Homo sapiens: one gene and its partners. The protein of the gene in region 1 interacts with the protein of each later gene in a pairwise test. Each region holds a gene or a part of one and is shown on either strand. Other genes may lie near its edges. The genes, in order: PSMA6, BRME1, SMCO3 and C19orf47.

Region 1 (7,023 bases):
AACATACTTTATAATTATTAATAACATATTATTGGCAGTGTTTGCTCCCAGGGAGTGGAGAGAAAGACTTTTTCTTTTTTTTTTTTTTCCCTTTGAGACAGAGTTGCGCTCTTGTTGCCCAGGCTGGAGTGCAATGGCCGTGATCTCAGCTCACTGAAACCTCCACCTCCCAGGTTCAAGCGATTCTCCTGCCTCAGCCTCCCAAGTAGCTGGGATTACAGACATGTGCCACCACTCCTGGCTAATTTTGCAGTTTTAATAGAGATGGGGTTTCACCATGTTGGTCTGGCTGGTCTTGAACTCCTGACTTCAGGTGATCCACCCACCTCGGCCTCCCAAAGTGCTGGGATTACAGGCATGAGCCATTGCGCTCGGCCTGAAATATTTCTCTTAATGTACATATGCAGGTTGTATGTGTGTGCATGTATTCATTTGTTAAAAATTGTAGAACACCTAGCTTTGTAATCTATTTTCAGGAATTGCCCAAGTTACTAGAGGGAGGAGGTGCATTGTAGGGGGAATGGGACTGAGGCCCTAGTTGGCCAAATTCAGCCTGGCTACTTGTAGGCCCTTCTCTTCTGTTTGCTGATCCTTTGCTGGATAGGTCTGGCAAAGGAGAAGAGGAGTGGTCATTTGGATTTGCTTGACAGGTGTATGTGAGCACTGCCTGGTTGCTACAAAGAAGGGAGCGTGCTGATAGGGAACTAGAAAGAAATGGACTGGTGGAGACATACTGAAAATAAAATGTAGAAGTGTCATTGTGTATTGAAGCCAGAATTCCTGAGTTCAAGTCCTTACTGCATACCAACTCTAAGAACTTTTTATCTGTAAAATAAAGATAATAACCACCTACCTTATAGGGCTTTAAGGATTTAATTAGTTAATAAATGTAAAGCATTTAAAACATTGCCCGGTATATATAGTAAGCACTCAATGTTTTCTGGGTGTTTGTTTGTTTGTTTGTTTGTTTGTTTTTGAGACAGTCTCACTTGGTCGCCCAGGCTAGAGTGCAATGGCGTGATCTCAGCTCACTGCAACCTCTGCCTTCTGGGTTCAAGTGATTCTCCTGCCTCAGCCTCCCGAGTAGCTGGGATTACAGGCGCCTGCCACCATGCCCGGCTAGTTTTTGTATTTTTTGTAGAAACAGGGTTTCACTATGTTGGCCAGGTTGGTCTTGAACTCCTGACCTCATGATCTGCCCACCTCGGCCTCCCAAAGTTCTGGGATTACAAGCGTGAGCCACCATGCCCCGCCTTCAATTAGTATTTTCTGTAGGGGATACTGTCAAGAAGAAACAAATGGCTGATGTAAATGGAGTCAGAAATTTCACAAATGACTGAGAAGTACTTACCATTTGCCTCTTTTGCAATTTAAAAAATATTCTTATTTCAAAGCAGTATTTCTCAACCCAGGCTTCTCATGCCCTCTTTGAATCTGATTTGAAATTCAATGCATGTGTGTGCATGCATACACATACATACATGTGCATATCTACATAAATACATATATAACTACACAGAAAAAGTGATGGGATCAAATACTGCTGTATTTTCAAACCTCATATTCCCCCTCTCTTTCCCCCTCCCCCAGTGCCAAGATTTCTAATGACCCCACCCCCTTGAGGAATCACTGTTCTAAAGAGTAAAAGGTTAGGAGGCACTTTATAGTGAACCACACATCTCAATTATGTAGCCTACAAGTTTAGGGAAAAGCAAATAAGTAGCTTCAAAAAAATCTTAACAAAGTTTTTTTTTTTTTTTTTTTTTTTTTTTGCCACACAGCATTGAAATTGAATATGAATATACTTTCTTTGTCCCAGTAGAACATCCCGTTTTATTTTTATTTTTATTTTTTTGGGGGGGATTGAGTCTCGCTCTGTCACCCAGGCTGGAGTGCAGTGTTGCAATCTCTGCTCACTGCAAACTCCGCCTCCTGGGTTCACGCCGTTCTCCTGCCTCAGCCTCCTGAGTAGCTGGGACTGTAGGCGCCTGCCTCCGAGCCCAGCTAATTTTTTATATTTTTAGTAGAGACGGGGTTTCACCGTGTTAGCCAGGATGGTCTCAGTCTCCTGACCTCGTGATCCGCCTGCCTCGGCCTCCCAAAGTGCTGGGATTACAGGCGTGAGCCACCGTGAGGCCTGTTTTTTAATAACTCATAGAATATGTATCTCTCAATTCATTTTTATTTTTCAAGCCCACGTTTATATGGGAGAAAATCATATTTACATCCCGAAACTCTACAGCATTCTAAACAAAATTATGGGTGGAAAAAGTCTTGAGTTACATTTCTAATAATTGGTAGGACCTCAGAATCACCTGTAAATGCTTTGCAACACCTGATGAGTGACATAAAGGGAATATATATCTCTGCTGTTGTTCTCACAGCCTGAGCTGTGTACAGTGTGAGCCATTGTCTTGCATCGTGTGCCTGTCCTGAACATTTTGCCACCGTGCCTTTTATGTTTAGCCACTGTATTTTTCTAGTATACAAATGAATCCCAGAGAAATTGAGGAAGTGTTGGGGAAAATGGTAGGGAAGGAAACAAAGCAAATAAGATATTACTATGGAAATGACATTTCTACATACAAAATAACTGTTGATACCATTTTGTTTGAGCAAGGAAGCAATTTACTTCCTAACCTAATGGTTTGTTGTTGGGTTCAACCATGAAACTGCTGGTCTTTGACTAATTTTTAACCTGTAAAAATGGCAGTTTCGTGTGGTTCAATCTAATACTTAGGTATTTTACTGTGTATTTAAGATTTAGAAAATTGGGGGCTTGGAGTCGAGTTTAATGCATTATAATTTTTCCCATTTAAAAACTGGAAAATGGGGCCGGACACAGTGGCTCACACCTGTAATCCCAGCACTTTGGGAGGCCGAGGCAGGTGGATAACCTAAGTTTAGGTGTTCAAGACCAGCCTGGCCCACATGGTGAAACCCTATCTGTACTAAAAATACAAAAATTAGCTGGGTGTGGTGGCGTGCCCCTGTAGACCCAGCTACTAGGGAGGCTGAGACAGGAGAATTGCTTGAGCCCGGGAGGTGGAGGTTGTAGTGAGCTGAGATCGCACTGCTGCACTCTAGCCTGGGCAACAAAGTGAGACTCCATCTCAAAAAAAGAAAAAAAAAAGGAAAAGGAACTATGACTTATTATTTTCTTGCATAATCTTGGACATTCAAGAATAGTTTACTCAGTTTTAGAGTTCTGTAAGTTTCCAAAATTTTAGCCCAAACCAAAGTCTTTGATCATGTAGTGTTTAAGTACTGTTGCCAACGTTTGAATCCTGACTTTAAAAAATAAATATCATTTTAAAATGCTGCCCATAAACTATTATTTTTATCTTTATTTCTTTATTATTATTATTATTATTTTGGAGACAGAGTTTCACTCGGTTGCCCAGGCTGGAGTACAGTGGTGCAATCTCAGATCACTATAACTTCCGCCTCCCAGGTTAACTCAATTATCCTGCCTCAGTCTCCTGAGTAGCTGGGATTACAGGCGCGCACCACCATACCTGGCTAATTTTTGCATTTTTAGTACAGACAGAGTTTCACCATGTTGGCCAGGCTGGTCTCAAACTCCTGACCTCAAGTGATCCACCTGCCTCGGCCTCCCGAAGTACTGGTATTATAGGCGTGAGTCACTGCGTCCAGCTATTTATTTTTTGAGACAGGGTCTCACTCTGTCGCCCAGGCTGGAGTGCAGTGGTGTAATCATAGCTCACTGTAGCCTCAAACTCTTGCACTCAAGAAATTCTCCTGCCTCAGCTTCTCAAGTAGCTGGGAGTACAGGTATACACCACCATGCTCAGATAACTTTTTATTTTTAGTAGAGATGACATCTTGGTGTTTCCCAGGCTGGTCTTGAACTCCTGGGCTCAACTGATCCTCCTGCCTCCATTCCCAAAGTGCTGGGATTATAGGTGTGAGCCGCCGCAGTGCCCAGCCTCTTTTTTTTTTTTTGAGATGGAGTCTCACCCTGTCACCCAGACTGGAGTGTAGTGGTGCAATCTCGGCTTGCTGCGACCTCTGTCTCCTGGGTTCAAGCGATTCTCCTGCCTCAGCACCCCAATAGCTGGGATTACAGGCGCCTGCCACCACACCTGGCTAATTTTTGTATTTTTAATAGAGGCAGTGTTTCACTATGTTGGTTAGGCTGGTCTTGAACTCCTGACCTCAAGTGATCCACCCGCCTCGGCCTCCCAAAGTGCTGGGATTACAGGCGTGAGCCACCATGCCCAGCCTCTTTTTTCTTAATTGGCCTTCATATACCATAGGTTGTCCGTATCTGCTCTAAACCATGATACTACTGTTTACCCTGCCAGTGTTTCTTTAAAAGATACTCTTTAGGTGTTGAGTTGTCTAAATTCTTTGCTCTGGCAGTTTCCATTTTTCTGGAAATTATTATAAAACATTTCATGGTGGTAGTGTTAAAATGGGGATTCATTTATACAAGCCTTTACTGAAATTACAGTGCAGCTTGATGAGTACTAAATAGTATAAAAAAGGTATTACAGGAAGTGACTAACTGCCTAGGAGAGCCGGGAAAGGCTTCTCAGAGATGAATTGGCCCAGATGAAGATTAAATAAGGAAATTTGGGGGACCAGTGCATAGATCAGTCAGTGTGAATGCAGTATAGACAGTAACAACTGAAAGAGTAAATTATAGCAATATTTTGAAGGGGCTTGAGTACCATGCTAGAGTTTGGACTTTTTTCCATGTGTTTTGAACAGAGCTAGCAGGGGTCTTTAAGAATGGCGAGGTAATTAAGTAAAATAATAGGAGAGTTGAGTGTAGAAATGGGATTAGAAAGGGACTGATGGTTCACACCTGGAATTCCAACACTTTGGGAGGCTAAGGCAGGAGGATTGCTTGAGGCCAGGAGTTCGAAACTAGCCTGGACAAAATAACAAGACCTTGTCTCTGCAGAATATATAAAATGAAATTAGCCAGGTGTGGTAGTACACACCTGTTGTCCCACATACTCTGGAGGCTGAGGTAGGAGGATTGCTTGAGCCGAAAGTTTCAGGTTGCAGTGAGCTACGATCACACCACTGCACTCCAGCCTAGACAACAGAGTGAGACCTTGTCTCAGAAAAGAAAATAAAAAGGGGACTGGTGGCAGGAAGAACAATTAGAAGAGGTTTGCTCAGTATCAGTAATTCATATAAACCCTAATGAGTGAATTAAGGTAATAAGAGAGAAAGGGTGGAGGGGTCTCTTGAGCTTATTTTTCACATTTTTATTATAGAATACTTTAGACAAATGTAGATAGACTAGTACAGTGACCTTCATGTACCCATCACACAGCTTCATCTGATGTCAATATTTTGTCAGTCTTGTTTTCTCCCTTTCCCACGCACTTTCCCCGCTCTTCTAGAGTACGTTAAAGCAAATCCTAGGTATAAGAATGGACATTTCTTGGGAAAGGGCAGGAGGTTAGAGTCAAGAGTGATAACCCAGGTTTGTAGCTTGAAAAATTGAGTGGTTAGTAATACAATTATGAAATAAGGACTGTAAGAAAAGCAGGTTTATAAAGAGGAAGAGTTTATTTTTAGACATGTCTGTGGCTAATAGGCATAGGTATTTGAAGAAATAGACATTTGTAATTATAAGTCCAGAGCTAGAGATGACAGATTAGTAGTGATTATCTAGGTTATAGCTAAATCTCTGGTTTAGGGTAAAATCATCCAGGGATGGAGAAAATAATAGAATTCTGGGAAATACCAGTATTTCAGGAGCTGGCTGAAGAGATGAAAGCAGTGAAGAAGATTGAGAAGGGAAGTTCAGAGAAGTAGGAGAGGAAGAGTAGGAATGATATTCTTAACAAAGAACTTTAAATTTGGCTGAGCGCAGTGGTTCACACCTATAATCCCAGCACTTTGGGAGGCCGAGGCGGGTGGATCACTTGAGGTCAGGAGTTTGAGACCAGCCTGGCCAACATGGTAAAACCCCGTCTCTACTAAAAATACAGAAAAACTAGCTGGGTGTGGTGGTGTGTGCCTGTAATCCCAGCTACTCAGGAAGCTGAGGCAGGAGAATCGCTTGAACCTGGGAGGCAGAGGTTGCGGCGAGCCAAGATTGCTCCACTGCACACCAGCCTGAGTGACAGAGTGAGACTCCATCTCAAAAAAAAAAAAACTTTAAAATCCAGTTGCTCAGTTACACTAGCCACATTTTATGTGCTCAATAGCCACATATGACTAGTGACTATCATATTGGACATTGCAAATATAGAACATTGCCAGCATCACAGAAATTTCTGTTGGACAGCACTGGTCTATATAAAGAACGAGGGCCCCCTTAATGAATCCTGGCAAATTCACAGGTGCATTCTCTGTTGAGAAGCATTTTTTATATGTAAAATGTTTTTTATTTTGTGAGACAAAAGTTTATGTGGTAGGGAAGATACTCTTTTGTGGCTTTTACCTTTTGCATTATTTAAGCAATAAGCATGTATTCATTTATTTAGTTCAGGGATGACAGACACAAATGCTTACACAGACCAGATAAGTAATGCCAGTGAGTAAAACAGGCTGAGTGAAAGATAACAGGAAATGGTGGGACCTGTGGAAAACTGCAAAACACCTGCTCAGCTTAGGTGATTTTTTTTTTCTTTGTGGCCAGTTGCTATGTGGGATTGAAGATCAAGTGTTACTAGAATTTTTTTTTTTCTAGGAAAAAATCACATCTCTAAAGACCCTCTGCCTGCTTTTGCCATATAAGGTAACATTCACAGGTTCCAGGGACTAGGACATAGATATATTTTGGGGATGCATTTACCAACCTACCAGAGGGTTAATGATTTTATTGGCTCAAAGAACCAGTTTTTGACTTAGCTGGTTTTTCTCTTGTTGTCTGTTACTGTTTCTTGATTTCTGGCCATGTTGTCCAGGCTGGTCTTAAACTTCTGGGCTCAAGCGATCCTCCCCATTCAGCCTCCCAAAGCAGTGGGATTACAAGCATGAGCCATCACACACAGCCAGAATCACTACAAATTTAGTGGTGTTTAAACAACA
Region 2 (7,023 bases), on another chromosome or scaffold:
CCGAGTGAGGAGGGGGCTTGTGGAGGTTGGGTGCCTGCCCTGGGCAGGTATGTCTGTCACTCAGGGCAGCTCTCACCTGCTCAGGTGGGGCTTCGAAGTCAGAGGCGTCCAGGGCATCCTGTATCTGGCTGTCCAGCAGGAAGTCGAGTTCCACAGCTAAAGAGTCTGCCCAGGTGCCCTGGTCTGCAGAATGAGGCAGGTGGTCTCGCTGCCCTGCCAGCTCTGAGGTGGTGTCTGGAATGCCCTGCTGAGCCCCGGGCTCCTGGAGAGGGTCGTCTGCTATTTCTCTGTGTTCCAGCACAACAGAGGCTTGCGGGGACACACGGAACCCCTCGAGGTCTCGTTCGAGGTTCTGGCCACCTAACTCGGCTTCCTCTTGAGCAGGACCTGGCTCCTGCTTCTGATTGACACATGGACCTGTGTCCGGGGATGCATGACCGGAATCTCCAGCACCCATCATGGACTCTCCGCTCCCAGGTGCCAGAGCCAGGGAGGCTGTAGGGCCCACTAGGACATCGCCGGGGGGCTTGCCATCCTGCCCTGCCTCCCCACTTTCTCCTGTGGTTTCCCCAGTGAGCGAGGTGCAGCCTGGCAAGGCCCTCCTGTGGCCTCCATCAGCGGCCTTCCTCCTGGGAGAGGCAGGTGATATGGCACTGGCCTGCCCATCGGGCCCAGCCACCTCCAGAGCCCTCTCTTCCAGCTCAGTGGGGTCTGTGCTCAGGTCTGCGATGACAACCATCCCGAGGGAGGAGCATCCCAGGCTGCTATGAGTCCCTTCCCCTTCCCTACCCATCCTGCTGGGGGTCTGCTGGGGGTCAGGGGAGCCCTGGGCCACAGACCCGGGTTCCAGGCACCAAGAGGCAGGGCCCAGTCCTGGAGCAGGGCCTGAGGTAGGAGCTGATGCTGGGGTACAGGGGACACCGTCTCCCTCCTCCTGGGGCCCTCCAGGCAGGCCAGCCCCTGCTGTCCTTTGGGCCCCTCCCTCCTGGGGGGCTCCTCTGTCTGGCTTCTCCCCTTCAGAATCAATGCTTGGTAGGTGTTCCTTTTGGCCACCGTCACCTGGAACCCTGTCTGTCTCAGGCTTGCTGTCATCGGCCCCTTGTTCTGACAGGTGGTCTTGGCTGGCCCTCTGTGAGGCGGACAACCCCGTCCCCCTGTCTGGAGGGTCATCAGGCTGAGAATCCCCACTGCCGGGCACCGCCTGCACAGGGCTCTGGCTGCTCTGCTCAGGGCGGGCACTGTCTGCCTGCGTTGGGTCCCCCAGCTCCGTGGCCTCCTGGAGGGGGACCCCCAGGGTCTCCACTAGCAGCTGGCATCCTGGACTCTGGGCGCTGGACTCTGCGATTGTTTCCTGTGGACAGAAAAAGACTCAGCCCCGGGGCCTTTGATAACCAAGTTCTCCGAAGAGTTTTCTATTAGGTTGGTGTAAAAGTAATTGCGGGTTTTGTCATTACTTTTAATGGCAAAAATTGGCCAGGCGTGATGGCTCATGCCTGTAATCCCAGCACTTTGGGAGGCCGAGGTGGGCGGATCACTTGAGGTCAGGAGTTCAAGATCAGCCTGGCCAAAATGGTGAAACCCCATCTCTACTCAACAAATACAAAAATTAGCCAGGCATGGTGGCAGTTGACTGTAGTCCCAACTACTCAGGAGGCTGAGGCAGGAGAATTGTTTGAACCCGGGAGGCGGAGGTTGCAGTGAGCCGAGATAGGACTGCACTCCAGCCTGGACGACAGAGTAAGACTCTGTCTCATACACACAAAAAAATTAGTGGCAAAAACTGCACTTACTTTTGCACCAATCTAATAGTTGTCACCACCCTGTTCAAAGACTCAGATATTGGCACCGGCCATCATGCATGGAAATAGGCATCAGTACCAGGGCCGGCGACTGGAGGGGGATCTGGAAGCACAGAAACCTCTCCTTCCACCAAGCTCTTCTCTCCACCAGCACCAGGTACTCAATCAGATCAGGGATATGAAAATCAAGGTGGCATTCAGACCACACCAATGTCAATTTCCTGTTTATTATTATTATTATTATTATTATTATTATTAGACAGAGTTTCACTCTTGTTGCCCAGGCTGGAGTGCAATGGTGCGATCTTGGCTCACTGCAACCCCCACCTCCCGGGTTCACGCAATTCTCCTGCCTCAGCCTCCCGAGTAGCTGGGATTACAGGCTCGCGCCACCATGCCCGGCTAATTTTGTATACTTAGTAGAGACAGAGTTTCTCCATGTTGACCAGGCTGGTCTCAAACTACAGACCTCAGGTGATCTGCCCATCTCGGCCTCCCAAAGTGCTGGGATTAAAGGCATGAGCCACTGCGCCCAGCGGCTATTATTATTTTTATTATTTATTTTTCATAATTTTGAGACAGGGTCTCACTCTTTCGTCCAGGCTGGAGTGCAGTGGTGTGATCACGGCTCACTGTAGTTTTGACCTTCCTAGATTCAGACGACCCTCCCACCTCAGCCTCCTAAGTAGCTGGGACTACAGGTACACACCACAACTGGCTAAATTTTGTGGTTTTTTTGGTAGAGATGGCGTTGTGCCATGTTGCCCAGGCTGGTCTTGAATGCCTGGGCTCAAGTGATCCTCCTGCCTCGGCCTCCCAAAGTGCTGGGATTACAGGTGGGAGCCACTGCACCTGGCCAAGTTTTAAAACAATTATTGTAGCCTGGACGCAGTGGCTCATGCCTGTAATCCCAGCACTTTGAGAGGCCGAGGCAGGCGGATCATTTGAAGTTGGGAGTTCGAGACCAGCCTGGCCAACAGGGTGAAACCCCTATTCTAATAAAAATACAAAAATAAGCCAGGTGTGGTGGTGTGCACCTGTAGTCCCAGCTACTGGGGAGGCTGAGGCAGGAAAATCACTTGAACCCAGGAGGTGGAGGCTGCAGTGAGCCGAGATCACACCACTGCACTCCAACCTGGGCGATAAGCAAGACTCCATCTCAAAAAAAAAAAAAAATTATTGTAGAGACAGAGTCTTGCCATGTTGCCCAGGCTGGTCAAGGGAAGTCTCCCAAAGTGTTGGGATCATAGGCATGAGCCACTGCACCTGGCCAATTGCCTAGTTTTGGTGATGGACTATAGTTATGCATGGTGTTACCACTCGGTGAAGCTAAAACAGAGAACACCGGAAATTCACTCTGTACCATTTTGTGTTTTTTTAAAAATTGTGCTAAGGCCGTGCGCAGTGGCTCATGCCTGTAATCCCAGCACTTTGGGTGGCTGAGGCGGGCAGATCACCTGAGGTCAGGAGTTCAAGACCAGGCTGGCCAACATGGTAAAACCCCGTCTCTACTAAAAATACAAAAATTAGCTGGGCGCGGTGGGCAGGCGTCTGTTATCCCAGCTACTTGGGAGGCTGAGGCGGGAGAATTGCTTGAACCCAGTGGGGCAGAGGTTGCAGTGTGCCAAGATGGCACCATCGCACTCCAGCCTGGGTGACAAGAGTGAAACTCTGTCTCAAAAAAAAGAAAAAAAATAAAATAAAGAATTGTTGCATAGTCAACACACATCCATAGCGCAATGTACTGAAAACGGTGGGTGGAGAGGTGCAGGCCTCACCATTGCCAAAGAACTCCAGGGTTAAATGGGGCTGCCGAGGCTGGGCCAGGAGGCTGCACCTGCGCTGGGCTCAGCCTGGCTGATTTTAGAGCCTTACCAGGCTAAAGGCCCCACTCCCACGGTCCTCATCCTTCATCTCTTCTTTTCTTGTCACTGTCTTCCTGGATTTTGCAAACTGGGGAACAAACCTCCCGAATGAGTTCTGTAAACCGGATACAAGAACAAAGCAGCAATAAAGATAAGAGAGGAATGAGGTCTTAGGAAAAAAGCAACCCCAAACCTGCTCCTTTCTTGTAGCCTTGAGAGAACTCCACCCTTGCCCTCTGGGCACATTCCCTCCAGCCCCTGTAGACCATGAGTGAGCAATTGGTGACAAAGAAGGGAGACACAGAGCCGGAACTTTAAGGGAGGCAGTGGTGCTTCTATATCCACGAGGCCACAGGACGAGCTCACCTGGGAAGGAGGAAGGGGAGCTGGCTCCTTTTCTGGTTGACGGAGGAGCCGGCAGGGAGATCCTGTTTCCTCATCAGGGGAGCTATGTAGGAAAAGATAAAACTGAAGGAGATCTGCCCGGGTGCGGTGGCTCACACCTGTAATTGCAGCACTTTGGGCGGCTGAGGCGGGCAGATCACCGAGGCCAGGAGTTCGAGACCAACCTGGGGAACATGGTGAAACCGTATCTCTACTAAAAATACAAAAATTAGCTGGATGTGGTGGCGCACGCCTGTAATCCCAGCTACTTGGGAGGCTGAGGCAGAATGGCTTGAACTCAGGAGATGGTGTTTGCAGTGAGCCAAGATTGTGCTACTGCATTCCAGCCTAGGTGAGAGAACAAGGTTCTGTGTCAAAAACAAACAAACGAGGGGGATCTGAAATCCTCCTAGGTTGTCACTCACCTATCGAGACAAACGCAAAACAAAATCCAACAGGAAACCAGTGCTAAGAGTCTCCTAGGCTGGGCGTGGTGGCTCATCCCTTTAATCCCAGCACTGTGGGAAGCTGAGGTGGGTGGATGCCCAGGAGTTTGAGACCAGCCTGAGCAACATAGTGAGACCCCTTTTCTACAAAAAATTTAAAAATTAGCTGGACGTGGTGATGTGTGCCTGTGGCCCCAGCTACTTGAGAGGCTGAAATGTCACGATCATCTGAGCCAGGGGAGTTCAGGCTGCAATGAGCTATGATCACGCCACTGCACTCCAGCCTGGGTGACAGAGCAAGACCCTATCTCAAAAAAAAAAAAATGTCTGCTAGATGGAAGGCCCTGGAAAACCTGCTTTGAAAGAGTGGGATGGGGATGGAGAAGCAGTGACCTGAGAACATTTAACTGTCAAGGAGGGTGCAGAGTCCCACCTGGAGAATACACTGCCTTAACAGGTGACTTTGTTACATTTATAATCCCAGGAATTGCCTTCTGAACTGGGAATAGGGATATTCTCATTTGGACGGACACTCCAGCCCTGACACGGCACATTCTAGGGAAAGGAAATTGTGGATGCAAGAAACATAGTGTCTTTAAAAACTAGTGAAACTTAGGGTTATATTTAAATAAATAAGGGCCAGGCGTGGTGGCTCACGCCTGTAATCCCAGCACTTTGGGAGGCCGAGGCGGGCGGATCACCTTAAGTCAGGAGTTCGAGACCAGCCTGGCCAACATGGTGAAACCCCGTCTCTACTAAAAATACAAAAATTAGTTGGGTGTGGTGGCGGGCGCCTTTCATCCCAGCTACTCAGGAGGCTGAGGCAGGAGAATCGCTTGAACCCGGGAGGTGGAGGTTGCAGTGAGCCGAGATTGTGCCACTGCACTCCAGCCTGGGTGACAGAGAAAGACCCTGTCTCAAATAAATAAATAAATAAATAAGGATATGTATATCGTTTTGTTTTGGCTAATTATTTTATTTCTTGTAGATATGGGGTCATCCTTGTTATGTTACACAGGCTCCTCTTGAACTCCTGGGCTCAAGCGATCCTCTTGCCTCAGCCTCCCAGTGTGCTGGGATTATAGGCATGAGCCACTGCACTCAGCCCTGATTGCTTTTCTTTTTTTATTGGTCGTTAGCTCACATAACAACAATTCCTTTGTTCCCTTCTTGATTAAGGAAGAGGAGGAATGTGGAAGAAGGATGGGTTTGACCAGCAGACAGAATATGAGTTCTGTAACCCTGAAAAATGCAATGTTATCTTTGCCCACAGTTAAAACTTTTTTTTCTTTTTTTAGATGGAGTCTCGCTGTTGCCCAGGCTGGAGCGTAGTGGCATGATCTCAGCTTACTGCAACCTCTGCCTCCTGGGTTCAGTCGATTCTCCTGCCTTAGCCTCCTGAGTATCTGGGATTACAGGTGCGCCACCACACCCAGCTAATTTTTGTATTTTTAGTAGAGACGGGGTTTTGCAGTGTTGGCCAGTCTTGTCTCAAACTCGTGACCTCAAGTGATCTTCCCCCCTCGGCCTCCCAAAGTGTTGGGATTACAGGCATTAGCCACCATGCCCGGCTAAAACATCAACCCTTCTTACCAGCGAGGAAAGCTAGGAGAAGCGAGATCCGAGGGCCCTGAGCTCTGGGAGGGAGTGGGTCACAGCACTAGATAGGTTGTGGGTCTCTTTCCCAAAGCATTGCTGTCTGCTGAGCTGCTGTGCTATGTGGACTGTCAGTGGGGAGACCTGCCGGAATGTTCAGAGCCACCTACCTGGAGACGGCCTTTCCTGGTTCCTCCCCGTGCTGCTGTGTAGAGGGAACAGGTCCCAATTTGCCCTCTGGCTCCTCAGGGTGATGTAAACAGCCCAACATGGAACTCTGGGGGTCCCCATAGAAGTCTCCTAGCCTTGGGTTCTTTAGGGGTTTTGGAGGACAGAGTCCCTCTCCTGTTTTAGAGACAGAGGAAGATGAAGGGGTGGGGGATACAGCCACTGCTCATGGCTGACAACTCAGGTCTCCCCCACTACAACCAGGCTGCACGCGAGAAGGGGCCGAATCCATTTCACTCTCTGCGGGGTCCCAAGTGCCTGTAAGAGCATCTTGTACACTGTTGGTGCTCAATAAATAAATTATCCATGACTGGATAAATGCACACCACCAAGGGCAGACAAGACTAAATTATGTACCATTCTAATGTGCTGAGACATCTGCAAAATAGCCATCCTGGGAAAACTGGGACTCACAGCCACCGGGTGCTGAAGAGGTGATGCTTTGGCCACGTCCTGGCCCCTTGCATTTCTGCACTAACTTCCCCATCACTGAAAGCAATTGCGATGTGTCTTCTTCTGGCATTTAAGAGGCTAAAGATGCTTATTGACATCTTTGTATATATAGCGCAGTGGCTCACGCCTATAATCCCAGCACTTTGGGAGGCCGAGGCGGGTGGATCACCTAAGGTCAGGAGTTCAAGACCAGCCTGGCCAACATGGCAAAACCCCGTCTCTACTGAAAATACAAAAATTAGCCGGGCATGG
Region 3 (7,748 bases), on another chromosome or scaffold:
ACCATCCACTTTTGTACAGAGTTTGTGCTATTATTTGAATATTTTCTTGTAGTTATCCATGAAATGGGTTCTGTAGTGCCCTGGAGCAGCCCATTGGGAATTGCTAGACAGCAGGTGGAGCTCTTGGTCTCTGGGTCTCCCATTTTTCACCTGGGCCTTTGCTGGACTGGAGCAGCTGTGCTTTCTCTTGCTCTACACATTTGGGCTCTGGGTAGGTAAAATTTTATTTGATGAGAGAGTTCTGTTGCTAAAACAAAGTTTGGAAATTTTTGACTTGTTATTTTATTAAAAAATGACAAAAAACATCTGAAAGTGCTGATGTCATTGGTCAGCACACCTTAAGAAATGAAAATGGAGACAAAGGTTAGCTTGAGATGGATGCTTACTGCACCTAACCTTGTTAATTTTTTTGAATTGAGAAGTCAACATTTAAGATTAAAGGGCATCTAAGATATGGTAGAAATATGCTGATAATTGTGTCTAAAAGTTAAGTTTTATTTAATGACATCATACAGTTGTTTTAGTTTTTCAGAAAAGGAACTACCTTACAAAATGAAAATGTACTGATCATCATATGTTCAAATACAACTCTTCAGGGTACTTTCGTGAATAACAGTAGTGCGTTGACTGTCAAGTGCTGTTGAACTTAGAAATTAATATCAAGGTGATTAGAGAAAGCTTCATGGAGAATGCAATATATGATTTATACTTTGATAGATGGTACATTATGGAGAAATTAAAAGTGAACGGTTTGGTAAAACGATTTTTAAATATATACTTATTACCAGTAACATATACACTTTTTTAAATAGAGGAGGAAAAACACCCATAAACCTACCATTTCACTTTTGATTTTTGTTATTCTTTTTCAAAATTTGTTTATATGCATAAGTATCTTCACAAAGTTATCATAATAGTATAAATAAAATTCATCTTTTATTCACTTAACACTTTCCCCTATTTATAGCTTTAAAAATATTTGGCCGGGCGTGGTGGCTCACGCCTGTAATCCGAGCACTTTGGGAGGCCGAGGCGGGCGGATCACGAGGTCAGGAGATCGAAACCATCCTGGCTAACACGGTGAAACCCCGTCTCTACTAAAAATACAAAAAATTAGCCGGGCGCGGTGGCGGGCGCCTGTAGTCCCAGCTACTTGGGAGGCTGAGGCAGGAGAATGGCATGAGCCTGGGAGGCAGAGCTTGCAGTGAGCCGAGATTGTGCCACTGCACGCCGGCCTGGGTGACAGAGGGAGACTCCGTCTCAAAAAAAAAAAAAATTTTATTGGTTACGTATACTATTCCCTGTCTTTACCCTGGTTCAATAAATCTAAAATTGTTTCACTATCACTAATATTCTAATGAGCATTTTGATACCCACAGATTTTTTTTCCTCCATTATCTGGATTATTTCCTCAGCATAAGTACCTAGAAGAATTACATAATTAGTGGCATAAGTAATGGGAATTAAATTTTTATTACTTTTGATATGTATCGTAAATTGCATTCCAAAAGCTTTTACTGTGCTACCCCAAATAAATTTTTATAGCAGGATACTGGGTATCCTGCTATAAAATTTTTACAATTTTTATTTTAGATTCAGGAGGTACATACACAGGTTTGTTCCCTGACTATACTGTGTGTTGCTGAGGTTTACTGTGAATGATCCTGTCACCCAGATACTGAGCATAGTGCTGGTATATTTCCCAGTCAAAGATGGTCCTGTTTAAATATTGTTGATTTGGGAAGAGTAAGGTTAAATTTCAAAAAGAGAAGTTCTTGCCTATTTGGAAATACATACTGAAAACATTTAAGATGAAATGAAATGGTCTCAGAGATTTGTTCACAAATAATCTGGAAAGAATAGTGGGGTAGGGTTATAGAGGAAAAAAGATTGGCCTTGTTTTGATAATTTTTAAAGCTGAGTTATGGGTACATGGGAGTTTATTATATTATTGTCTCTACTTCTGTGTATGTTTGAACTTTTCTTATAACAAATAAAAAAGAAAGAAAAAGAAAAACGTGACCCTGTCTAAACCTCTGATGTTTAGTCGTTAGTGCTCTCTGAGGTTTTACATTTCTTCTTGCTGTCACTTTTCTTCACTGTCCAAACAGGGTTTTGCCATCATGCACAGTTTCCTTATCTGGGAGTGTGGAAATAGGGTATAGGTAAAATCAGGAGCTTTTCAGAAGAAAATAACAGCTTCTAACTAGTTCTGAGTCTCCTTTAATTCAAATAAAAATCTGTGGCCTTTAATTAAAACAAAAATTGATCATGATGTGATGATATACTTTCTGATATAAATTCATTTAAAAAATGTTTCTGACCAGAAAGAAGAATATTAAAGTCATTCATCAGCATTTATCAAGTGCTCACTGGTGAAGCCTCTACTGTGTCCCTTGAGGCATTTGAAAACGACAATGTTCCTTGCCCTCAAGACGATAACAGCCTGTTTGGAGACACACAGCAAATGCTCAGAGATATTTAGATACAACATAATTTATGAAGGAGTATAAGTACTATACATTAACCAGTATTAGATTCCACATTCATTCTTTCATAGATAGGTACTGAGTGCCTATATTAATATTAATGACATAGAAGGAAATGTTACTATCCATGTAAACTTCACACATTCACACAGGTATCATTTCATCCTTAATCCTTCTTAGAATTGATGTCTTTACTGCTTCTCTTCCACTCTGACTTAATCAGTCCTAGAAATTGTTAATTTTCTTCCTTCTCTGCTGTCTTCAGAGAAGGCACCAGGAAAGGTTCCTTCCAAATCACAAGGAACATGTCATGGGATCCTCTTATAACAAAGCTGTTTTTTTACTTTATTTTATTTATGGTTAGGATTCAAGACTGACGGGCTAATTCAAATTCCTCCTACTACTGAGAAACAGAGTATTATATCAATACTAATAGAAATATCCACGTTGCTTACCTTGCTGTGTTTCTGAGTTCCGTGGTCCTAGCAGTTGTTTAGGAGTATTGTTAAAGTGCTTTTTCATCTGGTTTCATCTGGATATTTCTGATGGAATGTGATGACTTACAGACTTTGCTAGTCTCTGCTGGGTCCCTCTGCCTGTCTGGTTTATAGGCTATTTCTACATGGCTTGGCCCTCAGAATTCCTTCATTTCCTATTAATAAAAACTTAGTATACAGTATTAAGTTATATAAACTGGAAGACTAATAGTGTGTAAAACTTATTTTTAAATTTCTGTTCTTTAATGGACTTTTTATTGTTGAGAAGCGCTATATAACTGAGCTAATTCAATTTAGTAGAGAAGATGGCTCTTTGATTGCAGCTCTCAGATTTTGGGGTTTTATCTTGTCAACTATTCCAGATACTAAGTTTCTTTTAGCTTCTGTTGCATTTGCACCTCTAACTGTTGCTGATTATTTAAATTCTCAAGATATATAAATGCAGTTACTTGCATCCAATTTTTTTTTCTCTTCTTTCCAGCTAGGAGTTCTCCTCTTTGTCATTCTTTCTCTTCCTGTGTTTGTAAATTGTCTTGACAATATAAAAACCTTAAAGTCCAACTTCACTCTTTTCCCTGAAAGCTCAGATCAGTCTTCCCTGCTGCTTCTTCCCAGCTTCAGTCTTCAGACCCGTTAATTCCTCCACAGCAAAGACACCTGAGTGGCAGGGAAATCACTCAGCCCCAGTGTAACTTAGTGAAAGACAGCAGGCTTTACACTCAGACAGTCCTGGTTTTGTGTACTCCAAGTACCACTTACTAGTCATGTAATCCTAAGAAAGTCACTTAGCCTGAGTTTTCCCATTGGTGTAATATGAGTATTAGTTAATAATTTATGGATTAAATGGGATAGTGTTTATAAAGTAATTGGCATAGTGGCTGATATGTGGCAAAATCTTATGAAACGGTAGCTATTCATATATTAACAACAGTATCTCCTGGTGGAGGGGAGAGGAGAATGGGTGGGTACAGGATACAGAATCAAAATGCCAGACAGGCAGACAGGAAACTTTAAAATCTAAAGATGCTGCCCTGTGATTCTAAAGAAGGGCTAAGTGGGGTCACTTTTCTACTTTTGTCCCAGTGGATCATCTTGCCCTTGATGTATCCAGGGCCCCACCACGTACGGATGTGTGGCCAGTGTATCTGAACTAGGTATGGATGTTAAGTAGGATTTTAATAGATGTTTGGGGAGGATGGTGGTATAGAGGAAATAATACAGATAGAGGGAACACTGAGAGCAAAGGAGCTGAACCAAAAATTGTAGAACATTTTCAGGGAACAAAAACCAACCTGCTGGTGATACAGGGTGTAAGTGGGAGCAGTTAAGGGAAGGTAAGTCATGGAAAATTGAAAATAGTTTGTAGATAGCCTTAGATGTCATGCTAGGAAATTGTATTTCATTCTGTAGATAATAATGAACCATTAAAAAATCCTTTTAATTATGGTGTAATATTTGGAGATTTGGATTTCAGGAAGGGTACATTATGTAAACTTGATTAGTAGGTATGGACAATAAAGCATAAGTTACCAACCCCATTGCCTACAGTATGTGGACAAAATATGTCTGTCTTTTACCCTGTCTTAAAACAGTTGCATTTTGTTTCCGAAGAGGCTATTGTTGAAGAGTACCATTTAACCCACTTGTTCCTAAGGTGTTTGTTTCTCTCCTATTTCTACCCTTCTTAACATTTATTGCCTACTCATCCACTCCTTTCTCTCCTACCACATAGCAGCCTAAGTGGAGTTGCCAAAATTAAGGATAAACAGTAACAATGCAAAATAATTATCAGAGAAAAACTAGAAGCAATATTGACTTCATACTGAGCCCCCTAATCAACTTGAACTTCTTTTTTCTGCAATCAGTTTCTCAGGTTGAAAACTTGAACTTCTTAAATCTTTCTTGACTACTAAAGCCAGTATTAACGTCAAGTCAATAGTCAGAACTGAACCTTAGGAAGGAGGCACATTTTCTTAGTGTAGATCTTGGAGTCAGGGTGGTTTTAGGGAATCAGGAAGGCTGATTTGACAAGTTTCACTGCTGGATTGACAGTGGTGGGAAATGAGAGTGAAAGCAATAATATCTCCAAACTTATCTGCATGTAGCTCTCACTTGATCGTCTTTTATTTAGAATGCTTTATTTTCCCTTTTATCCTAAAGCTCATCCCCTTCTTTTCCTAAAATCTCTGCTCAAAAACCATATATTACATGACCCTGAATAAACTGCCCGATTCAATTACGATTGTTTCAACAATTTGCCAGCACTTATGAATGCTGCACTTAAAAAAAAATCAAGCAAACCTAAAAATAATCACCTTTTTGACCCAATAGCCTCCTTTATCTTTCTTCTTCACAGTTAGACTTCCCAGTTTGGTAGTGTACATGCATTGCCTCTACTTCATTTTCTCCATTAATTTTCCAGTATTTATAATCTAGCTTCTGTACATATTCCTGCCTCTTGCAAAATTGCTTTTCTAGCATTGTCAATGACATTGTAATGACTAAACATAAGAAATAATTTACAGTGTTTATCATACTTGCAGCATTTGAAATTGCTGATCAGGTCTTTATATTTTCTCTTTTTTTTTTTTTTTTGAGACAGAGTCTCACTCTGTCACCCAGGCTGGAGTGCAGTGGTGCCATCTTGGCTCACTGCATCCTCCGCCTCCCAGGTTCAAGCAATTCTCCTCCCTCAGCCTCCCGAGTAGCTGGGATTACAGGCGTGTGCCACACCCAGCTAATTTTTGTATTTTTTAGTAGAGACGGGGTTTTGCCATGTTGGGCAGGCTGGTCTCCAACTCCTGGCCTTAAGTGATCTGCCTACCTCAGTCTCCCAAAGTGTTGGGATTACACTAAAATAAAATACTTAAATATAAATCTAAGAATATATGAGCCACCATGCCCGGCCAATTTATCGTTTTTTCTTTAATGGATATGCTTTTGGTGTCATACATATCAAAGGACTAATCAGCTAACCAAAAGTTACAAGATTTTCTTCTGTATTTTCTTCTGTTTTATGGTTTTATATTTTTCATGTCCCATTTTGAGTTAATTTATGTATGTGTATGGTATGACATAAAATCAAGGTTTATGTTTTTGCATATGGGTATCAGGCTTTTCCAGCACCATTCATTGAAAAACCCTAAACTTTCTTTTTTTGTTGTTGTTCTTTCTTTGTTTTTTGTTTTTATTTATTTCTTCCAAAACAAAAGGGAGGATACATGTGCAGAATGTGCAGGTTTGTTACACAGGTATACATGTGCCATGGTGGTTTGCTGCACCTATTGACCCATCCTTTAAGTTCCCTCCCCTCGCCCCCCACTCCTCAACTGGCCCTGGTGTGTGTTGTTCCCTTCTCTGTGTTCATGTGTTCTTATTGTTCAACTCCCACTTATGAGTGAGAACACGTGGTGTTTGGTTTTCTGTTCCTGTGTTAGTTTGCTGAGGATGATGGCTTCTGGCTTCATCCATGTCCCTGCAAAGGACATGATCTCATTCCTTTTTATGGCTGCATGGTATTCCATGGTGTATATGTAACACATTTTCTTTATGCAGTCTATCATTGATGGGCATTTGGGTTGGTTCCATGTCTTTGCTGTTGTAAATAGTGCTGCAATAAACATACATGTGCATGTGTCTTCATAGTAGCATGATTTATAATCCTTTGGGTATATACCCAATAATGGGATTGATGGGTCAAATAGTATTTCTGGTTCTATATCCTTGAGGAATTGCCATACTATCTTCCACAATGATTGAACTAATTTACATTCCCACTAACAGGGTAAAAGCATTCCTATTTCTCCACACCCTTGCAAGCATCTGTTGTTTCCTGACTTTTTAATAATCTCCATTCTGACTGGCATGAGATGGTATCTCACTGTGGTTTTGATTTGCATTTCTCTGATGATCTGTGTTGTTGAGCTTTCTTTTTTATACATTTGTTGGTCGTGTAAAGATCTTCTTTTGAGAACTGTCTGTTCATATCCTTTGCCCATTTTTTGATAGGGTTGTAAATTTGTTTAAGTTCCTTGTAAATTCTAGATATTAGACCTTTATCATGTAGGTAGATTGCAAAAAATTTCTTTCATTCTGTAAGTTGCCTGTTCACTCTGATGATAATTTCTGTTGCTGCGCAGAAGCTCTTTAGTTTAATTAGATTCCATTTGTCAATTTTGGCTTTTGTTGCAATTGCTTTTGGCATTTTTGTCATGAAGTCTTTGCCCATGCCTATGTCCTGAATGGTATTGCCTAGGTTTTCTTCTAGGGTGAAAACACCTAAACTTTCTATGTTAAATTGCCTTTGCATCTTTGTTAAAAATCAGTTGACCGGCCAGGCACAGTGGCTTATGCCTGTAATCCCAGCACTTTGGGAGGCTGAGGCAGGCAGATCATGAGGTCAGGAGATGGAGACCATCCTGGCCAACTTGGTGAAACCTCTTCTCTACTAAAATACAAAAAATTTAGCTGGACATGGTGGTGTGTGCCTGTACTCCCAGCTACTTGGGAGGCTGAGGCAGGGGAATGGCTTGAATCTGGTTGGGGGCGGAGGTTGCAGTGAGCTGAGATTGCGTCACTGCACGCCAGCCTGGTGACAGAGCAAGACTCTGTCTCAAAACAACAACAACAAAAACAATCAATTGACCACATTTGTGGGTCTTTTTCTAGACTTCCTGTTCTGTTAGGTTGGTCTACATATCACCAATACTACACTGTCTCAATTACTGTGGTATATCTTAATATTAGATTGTGTGAGTCCTCT
Region 4 (7,670 bases), on another chromosome or scaffold:
GACCTCACTTCCCTCAACTGCACAATAAGAATGGTAAGGCCGGGTACAGTAACTCACACCTGTAGTCCCAGCACTTTGGGAGGCCGAAGCAGGAGGATCTCTGGAGCCCAGGATTTTGAGGCCAGCCTGGGCAATATAGCGAGACCCTGTCACTGTTAAAAAAAAAAAAAAAAAAAAAAAAACTGGGCGTGGTGGCTCACGCCTGTAATCACAGCACTTTGGGAGGCTGAGGCGGGTGGATCACCTGAGGTCAGGAGTTCGAGACCAGCCTGGCCAATATGGTGAAACCCCATCTCTACTAAAAATACAAAAATTAGCCAGGCATGGTGGTGTATGCCTGTAATCCAAGCTACTCAGTAGGCTAAGGTGGGAGAATCGCTTCAACCCGGGGCGGGGGGGGGAGAGGTTGCAGTGAGCCAAGATTACGCCACTTCACTCCAGCCTGGGCAACAGAGCAAGACTCAGTCTCAAAAAAAAAAAAAAAAAAAGGAAAGGTGGCTGGGCGCAGTGGCTCATGCCTGTAATCCCAACGCTTTGGGAGGCCAAGGCAGTGGATCACAAGGTCAGGAGTTTGAGACCAGCCTGGCCAACATGGCGAAACTCCGCCTCTACTAAAAATACAAAAAATTAGCTGGGCATGGTGGCAGGCACCTGTAATCCCAGCTACTCGGGAGGCTGAGGCAGGAGAATCACTTGAACCCAGGAGGCAGAGGTTGCAGTGAGCCGAAACTGTACCACTACACTCCAGCCTGGGCAACAGAGTGAGACTCCATCTCAAAAAAAAAAAAAAAAGTAAGATTACCAATTCTTGGCCAGCACCTTGGGAGGCTGAGGCAGGTGGATAACCTGAGGTCAGGAATTCAAGACCAGCCTGGCCAACATAGTGAAACCCCTCTCTACTAAAAATACAAAAATTAGCCAGGCGTGGTGGTGGGCACCTGTAATCCTAGCTACTCAGGAGGCTGAGGCAGGAGAATTGCTTAAGCCCGGGAGGCAGAGGTTGCAGTGATCCAAGATCGCACCACTGCACTCCAGCCTGGGCAACAGAGCGAGACCTTGTCTCAAATAAATAAATAAATAAATAAATAAATAAATAAATAAATAAATAATAAAAATAAAAAAACACCATCTTAAAAAAAAAAAAAGAGGACCCTTTTTTTTTTTTGAGATGAAGTCCCACTCTGTCGCCCAGGCTGGAGTGCAGTGGCGTGATCTCGTCTCACTGCAACCTCTGCCTCCCAGGTTCAAGCAATTATCCTGCCTCAGCCTCCCAAGTAGCTGGGATTACAGGCCCCCACCACCATGCCCGGCTAATTTTCTGTAGTTTTAGTAGAGACGGGGTTTCACCGTGTTAGCCAGGATGGTCTCTATCTCCTGACCTCGTGATCCGCCCGTCTCGGCCTCCCAAAGTGCTAGGATTACAGGCGTGAGCCACCACGCCCAGCCAAGGACCCATTCTTAAAGGTGTTACAAGGATTAAACGAGTTAATAAACAGAGTCCTTAGAACAAAGATGCACGGCAGGTGGTTAAGTGCGATGTTAAGTGTGCATCAAATAAAACAAATCTTCAGTAAGCTAGGGAAACAGTGGGACAGTCACTGACTTAATGCTAGTTTTATACAAAGTGTGAGCTGGGAACAAGTATAAGGACAACTTAATGGGGGTCCATGGGATCTGACAACAGGGAATCACACAGTACAGGTTCTGAACAGTATCCCTATTCAAAGGGAATACGTAGTATTCCTTTTCAATTATCTTTCCATTTCAGTGTACAATGTAATGGGCTGTTCAGTTTCCATTGTATTTTACCTGAACTTTTCCTTCCTCTCATGGCCAGCAATGCTAGTTTTCCATTGAAGACAGCAATGCGCCGGGCACGGTGGCTCACACCTGTAATCCCAGCACTTTGGGAGGCAGAGGCGGGCAGATCACCTGAAGTCAGAAGTTCGAGACCAGCCTGACCAACATGCAGAAACCCCGTCTCTACTAAAATACAAAAAAAATTAGCCGGGCGTGGTGGCGCATGCCTGTAATCCCAGCTACTCGGAAGGTTGAGGCAGGAGAATCCCTTGAACCCAGGAAGCGGAGGTTGCGGTGAGACGAAATTGCACCATTGCACTCCAGCCTGGGCAACAAGAGCGAAACTCCGTCTCAAAGAAAAAAAAAAGAAGAAGACAGCAATGCAAATTTGCCTTCTCAAATTAACTTACTGGGGAAAAAAATGCACTAGTCATTATCAAGAAAAAGAAAAAAACTAGTACTTCAGGACTCAGCAAAATTGGTCAAATAGTAAGTGACAGGATGTCGATTTCCCCGGCTCCAATTCTAAGTTTTTCCTATTGCTGTCTCTGAGCTTTCTCCCCCAGCTTCCCTGGAATTCCCAGCTACACCAATGACTCTCAGAATCATTATCATTATAGTCCCAATCCACGAGCTCTCACTGTGCCAGCCCCTCTGCTTAAAATCTTTACACACACAGATTTCATCAGAATCCTCAAGACGACCCTATGATATTGGGACTATCTGCTCTCATTGTACAGATGAGAAAAAACGGGGTTCAAGGAAGCGAAGACACAGGCCCCACTGCCGCACAGTGGAGCGGGACTTGAACCAAAATTCGACGGCTTCCAAACCCAACAATTTTTCATACTAAGCGCTCAAACATCAATACTAATAATAATAGTATAGTAACGAAGTGAGCGTTATGCGGAGGCGCTGAGCTAAGGCATCCAACGTACACGACCTGACTTCTCACTCCCATTTATAAAGCCGGTGATACAGTCGGATTCTAACCCCCATTCCACAGGGGAGGAAACTGAGGCTCAAAGAAACAAATCGTAAGTCCGAAGCCGTACAACGGAGCCCGAACTGAGTCCAGACACCCGGACGCCACCCGTCCCTACCGCAACCGGCCCAGTCCCACCACCCCCGGCCCGCGCCTCACCTGGCCCACCGGGCCCGCGCCCACTCGCGCCGCCCGCCCTCCCTCCCGGCGGCGCCAACTGTCAGACACTCCTCCCCCGGCCCGGGCTGCCCGCCCCGGAAGCATCCTCTCACCGCCGGAAGCTGAACTGACTCGTCCGCGGCCGCTCTACCCCAACAGGCCGCCACCAGCGAGAGTGCGGCCATAACCATCACGTGACCGCCCACCGACACCAGCGAGAGTGCAGTCGTAACCGTCACGTGACCGCCCACCGTCGGCCCGGCGCTCCCCTCCGCCCGAAGCTAGCAAGCGGCGCGGCCAATGAGAAAGGCGCATGCCTGGCCCCCGCCGGCCTGCAGTCTAGCCGTAGTGCGCCTGCGCGCGGCTAGGAGGGGCCGTCAGGCGGGGATACAGCCTGGAAGGTGCGTGTGGGGCTGGGTCTCGGAGTGGGAGACGTGGAGTGCAGGTACTGTGCGATCTGGGGGCGCGGCGCCTCGGCTACCCTCCTCGTGTTGTCTTCCACGCTATAATGCATGGAATATAATATATATTATATGGAATATAATATATGGAATATAATATATATAATTATAGCGTTGTCTTCCACGCTATAATTTATGTCGTCCTCGGTCTCTTTATGTCACCATTCCTCTCCTTCTGTCTCATCCCACTTAAATCCTCACAACTCCTTCTGTCGCCATCACCCTCTTTAAATCCTCACAACTCCTCTTGTTGTCATCAACGCCCTTAACTCGCTTTCGTTCCCTGTAAGCCCTCTTTGCCACCATAGGTCGTAATCGCTCCCTTTAAATTCGTCATCGCCATATGTTACCTGCATCCTGCTTTTGTTGCCATTTCTCCTTTATAAAATCCTCATTTCTCTTTAAACCCTCATCATACCCCCAAGTCACCTTCGCATGGCTACTGTCCCCATCGCTCTTCTTAAATCGCGCTAATGCAACTCTTACGTCATCATTACCCCTTGTGTCTTTGTCCCTCCCTTGGCATCACTGTTCCTCTGACCAGTCACCATCCACTCCTCATGCTTCCAGTTTTCCCCATAAGGAGCCACCCAGCCTTACAGTTATTTTTCTTCCCTCCGTGTCTTCGTCATTTCCCCGTGTCACATCTCACATAACATACGGGGTACTGCAGCCCATTACCTGGGGTGTGTCAGAATCCCAGCCCCACCACTACACCTCTGGATACCTTGACTGCCTTATGGCACCTTTCCAATCCCAGCTTCATCTGCAAAATGCACACGGGGACATCCACATCAGGGCTGAGTGTGACGATTCTGTGAGTTTATTCTTGTGGTAGGCTCAGCTTGACATGGTGTTTTTGGCTAATATTGTTATTAACCATGTCACCCTCGGCCGGGTGCGGTGGCTCATGCCTGTAATCCCAGCACTTTAGGAGGCCAAGGTGGGCGGATCACCTGATGTCGGGAGTTCGAGACCAGCCTGATCAACATGGAGAAACCCCGTCTCTACTAAAAATACAAAATTAGCCGGGCGTGGTGGTGCATGCCTATAATCCCAGCTACTCGGGAGGCTGAGGCAGGAGAATGGCTTGAACCGGGGAGGTGGAGGTTGCAGTGAGCCGAGATCGCGCCATTGCACTCCAGCCTGGGCAACAAGAGCGAGACTCCGTCTCAAAAAAAAATAATAATAATAGGCCAGGCGCGGTGGCTCACGCCTGTAATCCCAGCACTTTGGGAGGCCGAGGCGGGCGGATCACCTCAGGTCGGAAGTTCGAGACCAGCCTGACCAACATGGAGAAACCCCATCTCTATTAAAAATACAAAATTAGCCAGGCATGGTGGCACATGCCTGTAATCCCAGCTACTCGGGAGGCTGAGACAGGAGAATCGTTCGAATCTGAGAGGCGGAGGTTGCAGTGAGCCTAGATCGTGCCATTGCACTGTAGCCTGGGCAACAAGAGCGAGACTCCGTCTCAAAAAAAAAAAAAAAAAAAAAAACTGCATGATCTTGGGCAACTAACTTAACCTCCCAGCGCCTCAGTTACTGCATCTGCAATATGGGAATGAAAACACAAATTAATCATTCTGCACATAATTCTTAAGCATGTACTATATATGTGCCCAACACTGCTAGACACTGGGGATACCTCAATGAACAATACAGACAAAAATATCTCGGCCTGGCGCAATGGCTCACACCTGTAATCCAAGCACTTTGGGAGGTGAAGTGGGTGGATCACCTGAGACCAGGAGTTTGAGACCAGCCTGGACAACATGGTGAAGCCCCATCTCTACTAAAAATGCAAAAATTAGCCAGGCATGGTGGCGCGCCCCTAAAATCTGAGCAACTCGGGAGGCTGAGGTGAGAGGATTGCTTGAACCCAGGAGGCGGAGGCTGCAGTGAGTTGAGATCGCACCACTGCACTCCAGCCTGGGTGACAGAGTGAGACCCCATCTCAAAAAAAAAAAAAAAATCTGGCCTTATGGACTGTGTACTACACTCTAGTGGGGGTAAGAGGCAATGGGTAAATAGGTAAGTAGATTATTGGATGTATTAGAAGGGGCATGGGGAATGTGGGGTCAAGGTTATAGTTTTAAATAGGGTGGTCAGGGAAAGCTTTCTGAGAAGGTGACATTTGAAACAAATACTTGAAGGAGAAGAGAGAGTAGGGCTGGGCACGGTGGCTCACGCCTGTGATCACAGCACTTTGGGAGGCTGAGGAAGGTGGATCGCTGGAGCTCAGGAGTTTGAGATCAGCCTGGGCAACATAGCGAAACCCCATCTCTACAAAAATTAGCCAGGTATGGTGGTGTGCGCCTGTGGTCCCAGCTACTTGGGAGGCTGAGAGGTGGGGGGATCGCTTGAGCCTGGGAGTTCGAGGCTGCAGTGAGCCATGATTTTGCCAATACACTCCAGCCTGGGCAACAGACGGAGACCCTGTCTCAAAACAAAAAAACAAAACAAAACAAAAAAACGGCCAGGCGTAGTGGCTCATGCCTATAATCCCAGCACTTTGGGAGGCCAAGGCTGGCAGATCACCTGAGGTCAGGAGTTCGAGACCAGCCTGACTAACATGGTGAAACCTCGTCTCTACTAAAATTACAAAAAATTAGGCAGGCATAGTGGCAGACACCTGTAATCCCAGCTATTCAGGAGGCTGAGGCAGGAGAATCGCTTGAACCAGGGAGGCGGAGGTTGCAGTGAACTGAGATTGCGCCATTGCACTCCAGCCTGGGCGACAGCGAGATTCTGTCTCAAAAAAAGAGAGAGAGAAAGAAAGAGTGACATGGCCCTCTGGGGGAACAGCATGCTGGGCAAAGAGAACAGCAAAAGCAAAAGTCTTGCGGTAGGAGCAAGCTTGGAATATTTAAGGAATAGCAAGGAGGTCAGTGAGAGAGGAGAGGGGCAAGAGACGACATTGGAGGGGTGATGGGGCACATCGTGGAAGGCCTTGTGAGCCATGCAGAAGGCTGGCTTTTACTCCCAGTGAGGTGGGTGCCACAGGAGGATGTGGAGCCGAGGAGGGATGCGGTCCAGTGTGACATGAAGCCATCACCCTGAGCTGTGGCAGCTCCAGAACTTCTACCCAGGATCGACTAGTGAGAGGCAGCCTTATTGGAAAGAGAGCCAGAATCTTCTTCAGTCCGCACTCACATATCCTTTATGTTGGGAGAAAGTTTCAAATATCCCTGTCAAAGATCGAGACCGGGCGTGGTGGTTCACGCCTATAATCCCAGCACTTTGGGAGGCTGAGGCGGGCGGATCACTTGAGGTCAGGAGTTCGAAACCACCCTGACCAACATGGTGAAACCTCATCTCTACCAAAATTATATAAAATTAGCTGGGCGTTGTGGCTTGTGCCTGTAATCCCAGCTACTCAGGAGGCTGAGGCAGGAAAATCGCTTGAACCCGGGAGGCAGAGGTTGCAGTGAGCCGAGATCACACCACTTCACTCCAGCCTGGGCAACAGAGCAAGACTCCATCTCAGATAAATAAATAAATAGTCATAAAATTTGAGGGCAGGCTAGGGAAATGCTAACGGAATTTTTGAGAGGCCGGCGCCACCACGGGGTTCAGCTGCTGTCCCAGACGGTGGGGGGCAGGCAGCAGGGGATCTACAGATGATGAACAACAGGAGAGGCAGCTGTCATGTGGCATCTGTCCCTGGAAGCTTGAGGCAGCTTGGGTTCAAATCCTTGCTCCATTTCCTCTCTCTTTTTTTTTAACCAAAGTCCAGTTCCAGGCTTACCACATATCCTATTTCTCTTTATACCTGTGACTTCACCTCTCTGGATCCTTAATTCCCTAAGTGGGATTTTTAAGAGGACTGTTGTGAAAATTAAATATATTAAGTCCAATTTAAAAAAATAAAACAAATATATTAAGTGCTTTGAGGCCAGGCACAGTGGCTTATGCCTGTAATCCCAGCACTTTGAGAGGTTGAGGTAGGCAGATCACTTGAGCCCAGCAGTTCAATAGCAGCCTGGGCAATGTGGTGAGATCCCAACTCTACAAAAAAATAAAAAACTAGCTGGGCATGGTGGCACACACCTGTGGTTCCAGCTACTCAGGAGGCTGAGGCGAGAGGATCACTTGAGCCCAGGAGTTCCAGGCTGCAGTGAGATGTGTTCCCACCACTGCATTCCAGCCTGGGCAACAAAGCGAGGAGACCCTGTCTCAAAAAAAATCAAAAATGAATGCAAGAAGCCCCATTGTCTCACTCCACACCCTGCACTTTTGCAGGCTCACGCCTCCCTCAAGCT

What was found.
Region 2: the proteins of PSMA6 (region 1) and BRME1 interact in binary tests that used the Homo sapiens proteins (3 or more experiments, as listed by UniProt).
Region 3: the proteins of PSMA6 (region 1) and SMCO3 interact in binary tests that used the Homo sapiens proteins (3 or more experiments, as listed by UniProt).
Region 4: the proteins of PSMA6 (region 1) and C19orf47 interact in binary tests that used the Homo sapiens proteins (3 or more experiments, as listed by UniProt).

What each region holds. Positions count from the first base shown.
Region 1 is NC_000014.9:35,295,375-35,302,397, forward strand, and holds part of PSMA6 (proteasome subunit alpha type-6), read left to right. Parts: intron 1-7,023. UniProt on the Homo sapiens protein: Component of the 20S core proteasome complex involved in the proteolytic degradation of most intracellular proteins. This complex plays numerous essential roles within the cell by associating with different regulatory particles.
Region 2 is NC_000019.10:13,889,112-13,896,134, forward strand, and holds part of BRME1 (break repair meiotic recombinase recruitment factor 1), read right to left. Parts: intron 6,436-7,023; coding exon 6,261-6,435; intron 4,113-6,260; coding exon 4,031-4,112; intron 3,780-4,030; coding exon 3,675-3,779; coding exon of another isoform or gene 3,663-3,674; exon of another isoform or gene 2,008-3,662; intron 1,352-2,007; coding exon 77-1,351; intron 1-76. UniProt on the Homo sapiens protein: Meiotic recombination factor component of recombination bridges involved in meiotic double-strand break repair.
Region 3 is NC_000012.12:14,811,182-14,818,929, forward strand, and holds the start of SMCO3 (single-pass membrane and coiled-coil domain-containing protein 3), read right to left. Parts: upstream 3,002-7,748; 5' UTR 2,945-3,001; intron 212-2,944; exon of another isoform or gene 1-211.
Region 4 is NC_000019.10:40,345,380-40,353,049, forward strand, and holds the start of C19orf47 (uncharacterized protein C19orf47), read right to left. Parts: upstream 3,019-7,670; 5' UTR 2,945-3,018; intron 2,911-2,944; exon of another isoform or gene 1,810-2,910; intron 1-1,809.